Linked DNA regions of Homo sapiens. The protein of the gene in region 1 interacts with the protein of each later gene in a biochemical or structural test. Each region holds a gene or a part of one and is shown in the gene's direction. Other genes may lie near its edges. The genes, in order: SENP8, AKIP1 and CUL2.

The links.
Region 2: the proteins of SENP8 (region 1) and AKIP1 form a complex in vitro, tested with the Homo sapiens proteins (one study listed by BioGRID).
Region 3: of the proteins of SENP8 (region 1) and CUL2, one has a biochemical effect on the other in vitro, tested with the Homo sapiens proteins (one study listed by BioGRID).

The regions. Positions count from the first base shown.
Region 1 is NC_000015.10:72,135,198-72,139,024, forward strand, and holds part of SENP8 (sentrin-specific protease 8), read left to right. Parts: intron 1-3,827. UniProt on the Homo sapiens protein: Protease that catalyzes two essential functions in the NEDD8 pathway: processing of full-length NEDD8 to its mature form and deconjugation of NEDD8 from targeted proteins such as cullins or p53.
Region 2 is NC_000011.10:8,914,154-8,917,980, forward strand, and holds part of AKIP1 (A-kinase-interacting protein 1), read left to right. Parts: intron 1-672; coding exon 673-777; intron 778-3,133; coding exon 3,134-3,214; intron 3,215-3,827. UniProt on the Homo sapiens protein: Enhances NF-kappa-B transcriptional activity by regulating the nuclear localization of the NF-kappa-B subunit RELA and promoting the phosphorylation of RELA by PRKACA.
Region 3 is NC_000010.11:35,083,742-35,087,341, reverse strand, and holds part of CUL2 (cullin-2), read left to right. Parts: intron 1-3,600.

The DNA.
Region 1 (3,827 bases):
ATTACAGGCACCCACCACCACGCCCGGCTAATTTTTGTATTTTTAGTAGAGACGAGGTTTCACCATGTTGGTCAGGCTGGTCTCGAACTCCTGGCCTCAAGTGATCCGCCCACCTCATCCTCCCAAAGTACTGGGATTACAGGTGTGAGCCACCATGCCCAGCCTCAGAGAAGCACACTTTGTGAGAAATAATAGAAAGAAGCCTGGGCTGCTGGTAGGTGTTAAAAAAAAAAAAACTCTGGACTATAAAAAATAAAAATAGAAAATATTTTCACTTTACAGAAAAGGAAAGTGAGAGTTAAGGAAATTTAGTAATTTATTTATGATCACACAGCCAATGAGTAACAGAATTGAATCTAAAATTTAAGTCTTCAAATACGAAGTTTAGAGTTATTTTTGGCAAAGGGTGGGTTTGGCTAAAGGCTAGTTGAGTTCTATTTGCATTAGAATTTTTGGAGTTAAACTTGCTGTCATGCTGTATGGAACAGAATTAAGGCCTTGATTAACATTTTGTCTATGTGCTTGGTATTTTAAAAATCAAACAGACAAAACACAAAAACTATTTCTGAAGAAAATCTTAGCCCAGCTTGTGGACATTCCCTTCAAGGTGAGAGATGACTGACTGTTGAGGCAGTCTTCTTGCAGGTTCCTTTCCCTAGTTGGGTTGGTGTTGAAGACTGGGTGTGATTTCAGCAGGCAGTGTAGAGAGTAGGTCTCCGGGTTTTTGCCAAGCTATATGACCTGGCACTCACAAGTATGCAGTGTTTATTGAAGACATGAGAGACAGATGCTGTAGCCAGGGAGCAGTCATTCTGCCTTTATATTATAAACTCTTACATCAAGTCACATCGACAAGCTGATTACCTAAACTCTGTCAAATTGCTTTTGTTTGATTGATCTGTGCCCATTTGCCATAAGGCTAGATAGTAAAGATTATTATAGGAAACAATCCTGTCTGTTTCATCTGTTGTAAGGATACTGTGAGGCACTATTTGTTATGATGCACCATGTCTTTTATGAAAATCTCTTGAGAAAAAACTATCGGACTATAATACAAAGAATTATTTTACCTCTCCTGAGCAATTGCTTTGTTTTTGTCTTATGGACATTGTGAATGTTTACCTTTCTCTGGCCAGATGCCAAAAAGCTTAGAGCCAAATTTGTGGCCCACCCATAACAAATGTGCTCTATGCCTCATTAACTTCATTCTTGGCTCCAGTTTATGTCTCTCCACTAGTCTTTTTTTCTTAAGAAGATCCTAATTCATGCCATCTTATTATATATTTTTTCTTTTTTCTCATAAGTAGCCTTATGTTGTTTCTCAAATAGTCAGATTATGACATACTGTGTCTACATAAAACCATGTTGGATGCCCCTTCATTTACTTTGGCTTTTTTTCTTGAGGGGTGTATTGATTTTTCATATAGGTTTTTGCAGCGTTTTGTTACACGAAAATGGTTATATCACAAAAATTATTGCTTAATAGTGTAGACAAGTGGTAAAATAACTGGTCTAATGGTCAGAATTGATTAAATTGATGTCATAATTCTAGTCTTGTCTTTTACAGCATTATTACTATTTTCTTATAATATGCTTTGTTTTGCACTCTCAATCTGCATGTGACAGTTTATTGCTGTGTGATTTTCAGAAATATTGTCGTGCTGCCAGGTCACTGCATAACAGCTAACTCTCTGTTAACTCTGTTGAGTCTGTTAGGCTCAAATATTCTACACCCATCAGACTTGTCTCACTTTGGGTGGTCACAGGCATATTAATTTCATCACACAACTTGTCTTGCTTCTCCTCTAAATTAGTCATTCTTTTATTTAGACAAGATAATGTGAATGGATATTTGTTTTCAAACCTCATTTTCTTTGATTGGTTTGGAGCTCTAGCTGGATTTTCTGATTATCTTACTAATGTCATCTAATTGATAAATATTATTGTACAACTTTTTAAACTCTTTTAGTACTTCCAAGTAAAATTATTTGGTCTTCTCTACAACTCTCTAGGGTATGTAAGGTGGGTATATGCCTTTTTTACAGATGGCATACAAAAATGATTAAATGATTTTATATGCCATCTGTAAAAAAGGCGTATACCTTTTTAGAAAAACAAGGACAAAGTCATTTAAATGACTGCTCAAGATGATACCAGCAAATCAGTGGTAAAACTAGGACTAGACCCAGGTTTCCAGAATCTTATCCCATACTACCTTTTAAAAGAAGTCAAAAGAAGTTCTAACTTATATTGTAAACATTACTTCATCTTTATCATACCCCTTGAAGCTAAAGCTATGAAACAGGCAAACACATGTTATATCACTCATGCTCATAGCAGGGCAGAATCAGGAATGAATTTCATTTGTATTAGTCTCATGATTCTCTGTTTTTAAAATTACAGTTCCTTTTAACTACTACCGTAATCACTGTCACGTTCCATTATGGAAGGAGGAAGCAATATTTTATCTTATCTTTTGAAAATTAATGTTGAGGCCAGGCGCGGTGGCTCACGTCTGTAATCCCAGCACTTTGGGTGGCTGAGGTGGGTGGATCACGAGGTCAGGAGATCGAGACCATCCTGGCTAACACAGTGAAACCCCGTCTCTACTAAAAATACAAAGAATTAGCCGGGTGTTGTGGCGGGCGCCTGTAGTCCCAGCTACTTGGGAGGCTGAGGCAGGAGAATGGTGTGAACCCGGGAAGCGGAGTTTGCAGTGAGCCAGGATCGCGCCACTGCACTCCAGCCTGGGTGACAGTGCGAGACTCCATCTCAAAAAAAAAAAGAAAAAGAAAATTAGTGTTGAAATGAAAAGTATTTCCCTTGGAAATTAGTAACTTTTTAGATTCTTTGAATTCATCTTTAATATAAAAATAATTTGTTGTCATTATGCATATTCATTAAGGAGCCAAATAATACAGTTAATGGTATGGTGTTTGGTAAAACATTAGCTATAATTTTAATCTCTGTGCTTCAAGAGGATATTTAAAATTCATGCTTACTGTGTACATGGCAAGTTTCCAGTTCTCATTCTAACTAATCGTTTACATGTAGCACATAAGCTAGAATTTCTTATAGTTACAGTTGACCCTTGAACAACACAGGGGCTAGGAGTGCCAACCCCCGTATGCAGTCAAAATTCTAGGTATAACTTTTTTTTTTTTTTTTTTGAGATGGAGTCTTGCTCTGTTGCCCAGGCTGGAGCGCAATGGCATGATCTCAGCTCACTGCAACCTCCACCTTCCAGGTTCAAGCAGTTCTCCCACCTCAGCCTTTCGAGTAGCTGGGATTACAGGCATGCCCCACCACGCCCGGCTAATTTTTGTATTTTTAGTAGAGATGGGGTTTCACCATGTTGGCCAGGCTGGTCTCAAACTCCTGACCTCAAGTGATCTGCCCACCTTGGCCTCCCAAAGTGCTGGGATTTCAGGCGTGAGCCACAGCACCCAGCCTAGGTGTAGGATTTGACTCCCTAAAAAAATACGCCAGGTGCGGTGGCTCACGCCTGTAATTCCAGCACTTTGGGAGGCTGAGGCGGGCGGATCACAAGGTCAGGAATTCGAGACCAGCCTGGCTGATATGGCGAAACCCTGTCTCTACTAAAAATACAAAAAAAAATTAGCCGGGCATGGTGGCACATGCCTGTAATCCCAGCTACTCAGGAGGTTGAGTCAAAAGAATCGCTTCAACCCAGGAGGCAGAGGTTGCAGTGAGCTGAGATCGTGCCACTGCACTCCAATCTGGGCGACAGAGTGTGACTCCATCTCAAAAAAAAAAAAAAAAAAAAACTTTACTACCAATAACATAGCCAATTAACAATAACATAG
Region 2 (3,827 bases), on another chromosome or scaffold:
GTGCCTACCCTGTTCAAAACAAGCAGGGCTGTGATGTCATTAGTCATTATCAAGGGCAAGTCTAAGGCTAACTTTGAGGGGGAGGAAGGAAGCAGACAAGAGAAATGTAACTGTTTTCCGATCTTTCGGAAGATTCTTCTTAAATTAGAGACTTCTCCCTCCACTCCCCCACGCGCAGGAAGCACAGAGAAAAGGGCTGCAGAGCAGCTCTTGGGTTTGTTTCATTTCCTGCTGTGTTTCTAAATCTCAGGAAAATGTACCCCTCTCTTCCCGTGTCCTGGTCTGAGACTTAGACAATAAACATGGAACCGTTCATCCACATTTTTTAGGGGAGGAAATGAAAGGATATGTGCATTGGACATGGGGGCAAAGATGTGAAATTTGTTTAACCTGGCAGAGAGCATGGTCCTGCCCACCTTTAGTTAGCCAGCGTTCTTGCCCTATGGAGGCAGCAGGTGGCAGCACGGGGATGCCAAATGCATTTCTTTCTCTGCAGCCACTTTGGGTGGGCTAAGGTTTGTTGCATGACTTCAGAGGCCTGTCAAGAGGGCAGGTAATTCACCTTTGCTCTCTTGCCTCCCTCCTTAACTGCACTTTGCCCAAATATCAGGGTTTTTTGAAAATTTGACAAGACAATTTGGTTAGCTAACATCTTTGACATTACGTCTCTAGAAATATTATTCATCTGTGCCAGAGGAAGGAGGGGCAACCCATGTCTATCGTTATCACAGAGGCGAGTCGAAGCTGCACATGTGCTTGGACATAGGGAATGGTCAGGTAAGTGTACTCAACTGTCCTGCACCATGCCTTCAGTCTACCAAGATATGACACCCTATATTCAAGAGCCCCTGCTAGACTTTGTGTCACTGGATGCCCGTGTGACTTGGCATTACAGTGCTTAACAGAAATGTGTAAATTCATAGCCTTAGAGAACTTACAGCAATGAACATGAAATAGGAGGTTGTCAAAAATATAAGATTGATGCCACTGTAGGATCTTTAGTTGAACCTGCAGTCCTGGGCCATGGGATTCTCCAGCAGGTTTAAAGAAAAGAGCTTCCAAGCCTGGAATGTGGTGTATGCAATGATCGCCCCTGTGACTATCCCCTGCATTCTATCCTGGGCAACATAGACCCTTTCTCTAATTTTTTTTTAAAAGAGCTCTAAATATCCTCTTCTACATCTAGGGATAGGATTTTTTTTTTCTTTTTTTTTTTTTTTTTTTTTTTGAGACAGGGTCTTACTCTGTCACCCAGGCTAGAGTGCAGTGGAGCAATCATGGCTTACTGCAGCCTTGACTTCCTGGGCAGGTGATCCTCCCACCTGAACCTCCCAAGTAGCTGGGACTACAGGCACATGCCACCACACCCAGCTAATTTTTAATGTTTTTAATAGAGATGGGGTTTTGCTATGTTGCCCAGGCTGGGGGAAAAGATTTTTAATAATTACATTTTTTACTATAAGGTGATAACTGTCATGTCTTTGGTAATTTTTTTTTTTTTTTGAGAGGGAGTCTCACTCTGTCACCCAAGGTGGAGTGCAGTGGTGCGATCGCGGCTCACTGCAACTTCTGCCTCCCAGGTTCAGACAATTCTGCCTCAGCCTCCCAAGTAGCTGGGACTACGTGCACACACCACCAGCCCAGCTAATTTTTGTATTTTTCTTTCTTTTTTTTTTTTTTTTTTTGTGGAGTCACAGTCTTGCTCTGTTGCCCGGGCTGGAGTGCAGTGGCACAATCTCAGCTCACTGCAAGCTCTGCCTCCCTGGTTCACGCCATTCTTCTGCCTCAGCCCCGAGTAGCTGGGACTACAGGCGTTGCCACCACGCCTGGCTAATTTTTTGTATTTTTAGTGGAGACGGGGTTTCGCTGTGTTAGCCAGGATGGTCTCGATCTCCCGACCTCGTGATCCGCCTGCCTCGGCCTCCCAAAGTGCTGGGATTACAGGTGTAACCCACCGCGCCTGACCCATTTTTGTATTTTTTAATAGAGACAGAGTTTCACCGTGTTGGCCAGGCAGGTCTTGAACTCCTGACCTCAGGTGATCTGCCTGCCTCAGCCTCCCAAAGTGCTGAGATTACAGGCGTGAGCCACCATGCCTGGCCCCTGTCTTTCATAATTTTTAAAAAGAAAGTACAAGGGAAGTGTGGGGACGGGGGTCTCTTTTAACAAAATACTTTTTGTAAAGGTAATAACAGTTACGGGCCTCTCACTACAAACTTACCTTTTACCACATGTCATTCTGGGGAAGCCAAAGATTCTGCTTATTGAACTGATTCAAAGGAGGAGGTGGTGGTGGTGGTTTCTGAGGAGACTAGGTTTTTGCTTTTGTTTTAACCTACCCTACTTGTACTCAAAGATAGCAAACTGAAGTCCAGAGTCTATTCCAGAGTCTAAGTTGGATTCCTGACTTCTTTGGTCTGTCAGCCATTTTGGGGTGTTAGAGGGAGGAAGTTTAGGAAAAGGATGGGAGAGTGGGCACAGGGACATGAGCAAGGGCTGAGTGCACACTCGAAGCACCTCCCACATGCCTCCCCTGGCCTGGGAGGTGAGTAGTGGTGCCAGAGCTTGAGTCCTGAGCCCCCTTTTCTGGCCTAGCCTGAACTCTTACCTAAACGCACCTGACCCTAAAGGGTGCACTTAGGTACATGTGGGGAAGAGTCGTTCCCATCTCTCCCTTTAAAATGTAAGTTCCCTCTAAGGGAAATTGGCTTTATCAGTCAGCCTGTTCCCTTCTAGGACCACCCCCACTCCTAGAAGAAGCACAGAAGAGAATGTATTGAGAGCCTAAGTGCCACTTTTGCACTTTAAATTTTCCCTGCAATCCAAGAGTGCCATGTTACAGACTGGAAAACCAAGGTTCAAGAGAAGTTAATCTGTCTTAGTAAATAGCAGAGATAGGACTTAAACTCAGGCGTGGCTGATTCCAAAGCCCATGTAAGGATGAAAATTATAGTAAATACCTGACTAAAAATACCTCACAGAATTCACTTAAAAATGCCTTAATGACTTAGATGACAACTTAGAAAAAGCTGACAGAACAATTACTAACTCCTAATAAGGTAGAAGAGAACTTCTCTTTACAATCCAAAAGTGAAAGCTTGGGCACAAATCAGTGTTCTACTTGTCTCTTCAGAGAAAAGACAGAAAAAAGACATCCCTTGGTCCTGGAGGCAGCTATCAAATATCAGAGCATGCTCCAGAGGCATCCCAGCCTGTGAGTACGGAACTGCTTACGCACTGGGTTTCACCACCGTTGCAACTCCATGAACCAGTTGACATGGTTCTTAGAGGGCTATTTGAATTGAGTCTATAGTATTTTTAAGTTGAGATGTTCTTACACTTAAGAAGGGCACACAAGATTTTGGTTCAGTGTAAAATTAGGTTTTCTTGGTATTCTTCCTTCACTCTAAGCTTCAGGGATACTCTTTGTGCCTGAACTCATAGTTGTGGTTGGAAAGAATGTGAAGTATTCACCTCTCAGTTCCTACAGCTCAGCTGGGCTGGCACTGGGTCCTGCTGGAATTCCACCATCTGTTCAAGCAGCAGGAGGGGCACGATCCTCCTGCTAACAAAGTGAAAACCATTGCTGAAATTCCGAAACATACACATTTGGTGAGATCAGGTTCCAAAACATTTGAAGGCATTTGTTCTTATTTTCCACAAATGTTTCTCTGTAAAAACATATAATGAGTTTTTCATTTTTAGGATAAAGTACTCATTAGGTCATGAAGCCAGGGGATCCTTTTTGGAACTTGGAAGGGCTAGAATTCTGAGGAAAGGAACTTCATTCAGCATGGTGCCGCAATACATTTACTTTTTGTTTGTAT
Region 3 (3,600 bases), on another chromosome or scaffold:
GCATTTATTTATTGGTATACTAATGTTTTGAACAAAAACTGTATTCACATGGCTCAAAATTTAAGATGTTAGTCTGGGCAACATGGTGAGACCCCATGTCTACAAAAAATAATTTAAAAAACATTAGCCAGGCGTGGTGGCGCACGCCTGTAGTACCCGCTGTTGGGAAGCTGAGGCCAGATGACCAGGTTGGAAGTGGCAGTGATCTGTGATTGCACCACTGCACTCCAGCCTGAGTGACAGAGTGAGACCCTGTCTCTAAAACAAACAGAAAACCAAAATATAAAATTGTCAGTAGGGAATAGAATGAAAATCTCCCTCCACTTCTTGTACCCTTGTCATCCAGCTTTCCTTGGAGCCAAACATTGTTAGCTGTTTCTTAGATCTCCTTGGAAAAAAATATTTGTGGACATATAAGCAAATATTGTTCCCACTTTGCAGAAACAGTAGTACACTTTACTTTGACATTTGTATTTTTTAGAGTGTTAAATAGTAGTTAAGTTATGAAATAGGATGAGAACACAGAGAATGTAGAAAGAGGATAAAACTGTGGAGTACTGCAGCATTTTCTGATTTGGTCCCTGCCCTTGTTAAGTTCATTTATTTATTTATTTATTTATTTTGAGATGGTGTTCGCTCTGTCACCCAGGCTGGAGTTTGTATTTTTAGTAGAGATGGGGCTTCACCATGTTGGCCAGGCTGGTCTCGTTAAGTTTTTGACCTACAGGTGTGGAGTTGTTTAAAAAGCTGTTTCCGGCCACGTACGGTGGCTCAGGCCTGTAATCCCAGCACTTTGGGAGGTTGAGGTGGGTGGATCACTTGAGCCCAGCAGCTTGAGACCAGCTTGGGCAACATGGCGAACCCTGTCTGTACAAAAAATACAGAAATTAGCCAGGTGTGGTGGTGCAGGCCTGTAATCCCAGCTGCTAGGGAGGTTGAGGTGAGAGGATTACTTGAACCCAGGAGGTGGAGGCTGCAGTGAGCCACTATACTCCAGCCTGGGTGACAGAACTAAGAGAGTTTCATTGTGTTGCCCAGGCTGGTCTCGAACTCCTGGGCTCAAACAATTCTCCCACCTCAGCCTCCCTAAGTGTTAGGATTACAGGCGTGATCCACTGTGCCCGGCCTTGTTTCTTGTTTCTTTTTTTTTTTTGAGACAGAGTCTCTCAGTCTGGAGTGCAGGGGCTCAATCTCAGCCCACTGCAGCCTCCACTTCCCGAGCTGGGACTACAGGCGCCCTCCACCACTCTCAGCTAATTTTTGTATTTTTAGTAGAGACAAGGTTTCACTATGTTGGCCAGGCTGCTTGTTTCTTTATTTTTATCTTTTTCAACTTTCATTTTAGATTCAGGAGGTACACACGTAGGTTTGTTACCCGGGTATATTGTGTGATGCTGAGGTTTAGGATACAATGATCCCGTCACTCAGGTGCTGAACATAGTACCCAACCGTTTTTCAACCCTTATGCCCTTCCTCCCTCGCTGTAAAAAGCTGTTTCTTTTTGTGAGACTTTACAAAAGTTTGCACTGTTTGTTTTGTGTTCTACCTTATCTGCCTGTTCTTTGTGTATTCTGGAAAAATGTCTGGCTGTGATTGAAAGCAATGTTTCATATGCACTATCAGTTTTTTTTTTTTTTTTTTTTTTGAGACAGAGTCTGGCTGTGTCTCTGGTTCCCGGGTTCACACCATTCTGCCTCAGCCTCCCGAGTAGCTGGGACTACAGGCGCCTGCCACCATGCCCGGCTAATTTTTTGTATTTTTCATAGAGATGGAGTTTCACCGTGTTAGCCAGGATGGTCTTGATCTCCTGACCTTGTGGTCCGCCTTCCTCAGTGTCCCAAAGTGCTGGGATTACAGGTGTGAGCCACACCGCGCCTGGCCCTAACAGTTATTTTTATTTTTATTTTTTTTTGGGACGGTGTCTCGCTTTGTCGCCCAGGCTGGAGCGCAGTGGCGCGATCTCAGCTCACTGCAAGCTCTGCCTCCTGGGTCTACGCCATTCTCCTGCCTCAGTCTCCAAAGTAGCTGGGACTACAGGCAGCCGCCACCATGCCTGGCTAATTTTTTGTATTTTTTTAGTAGAGACGGGGTTTCACTGTGTTAGCCAGGATGGTCTCAATCTCCTGACCTTGTGATCTGCCTGCCTCAGCCTCCCAGAGTGCTGGGATTACAGGTGTGAGCCACCACACCCAGCCAGTTATTTTTTATTATTATTATTTTTTGAGATGGAGTCTCACACTGTCACCCAGGCTGGAGTGCAGTGGCACAATCTCGGCTGACTGCATTCTCCGCCTCTGGCATTTAAGAGACTCTCCTGCCTCAGCTTCCCAAGTAACTGGGATTACAGGCGCCCACCACCACCCCCAGCTAATTTTTTTGTATTTTTAGTAGAGACGGGGTTTCACCATGTTGGCCAGGCTGGTCTTGAACTCCTGACCTCATGATTCACTTGCCTCGGCTTACCAAAGTGCTGGGATTACAAGTGTGAGCCACCAGGCCTGTCCAACTATCAGTTGTTTTTAAGTAAATTGATGACAGGATCAGCCCTAGAATCTTAATATTATGAGGACTTATGACTGGCTCATGTTAAATCTTGGAAAAACAAGCAGCGATTTGGAATGTTATGAGATTTATAACAAGTTATTGATCTATGAGATGTATGACTGAACCCTCTCTCAGTAATCAGTTAATCACAATATCTATTCAGAGTGATTTGGCTCTGTGCCTGGGTTTGAATCTTACTGGTAACGTATCTGTCATATTGCAGTTAGCATAATCTTTGGGTTACCTTTAAGAATGTATAGATTTCTATATCAGTACTTTATATTTGGCTTTTCATTGGGAAAGGCTTATTGGAGACAATCCCTTTGATTCTTAAAAGTTTTGAGACAGTAGTAGTGTTAGGTTAAGATTGTGGTGTTGGATCTGTAGAAACTTCCGGGGTGCCTTGAACCCTGTTGATTTTTCTTTTGGAGGAGGAGAGGTGGAATATTTCCTTTTGCTTTAAGCTTTGTTATTCTGGAGAATTAAAAATTCAGACTGATACTGTGTCTTGTTTGCTTGTTTGAGACAGAGTTTCACTCGTCACCCAAGCTGTAGTGCAGTGGCGCGATCTCAGCTCACTGCAACCTCTGCCTCCTGGGTTCAAGTGATTCTCCTGCCTCAGCCTCCCAAGTAGCTGGGACTATAGGTGTCTGCCACCACACCTGACTAATTTTTATATTTTTAGTAGAGATAGGGTTTTGCCATGTTGACCAGGCTGGTCTTGAACTCCTGACCTCAAGAGATCCGCCCTCTTTGGCCTTCCAAGGTGCTGGGATTACAGGTGTGAGCCACTGTGCCTGGCCTCTTTTATATAGTTTAACATTATAAATAATGTTAGTTACATCTATTAATTCAGTGACTTAGTCTTTCTCTATTGTAGGTTGCTTTTCAAAGAATGAAACATGGATTTGCCATATGTAAATTTTTAAAAATATCTCAGCCTTGTTTTAATTCAGTTGAAGGAGAGAAAGTACAGGCTATGCTCCAGGCTGGTTTTGAACTCCTTGGCTCAAGCAGTCCTCTTGCCTTGGTTTCCCAAAGTGTTGGGATTACAGC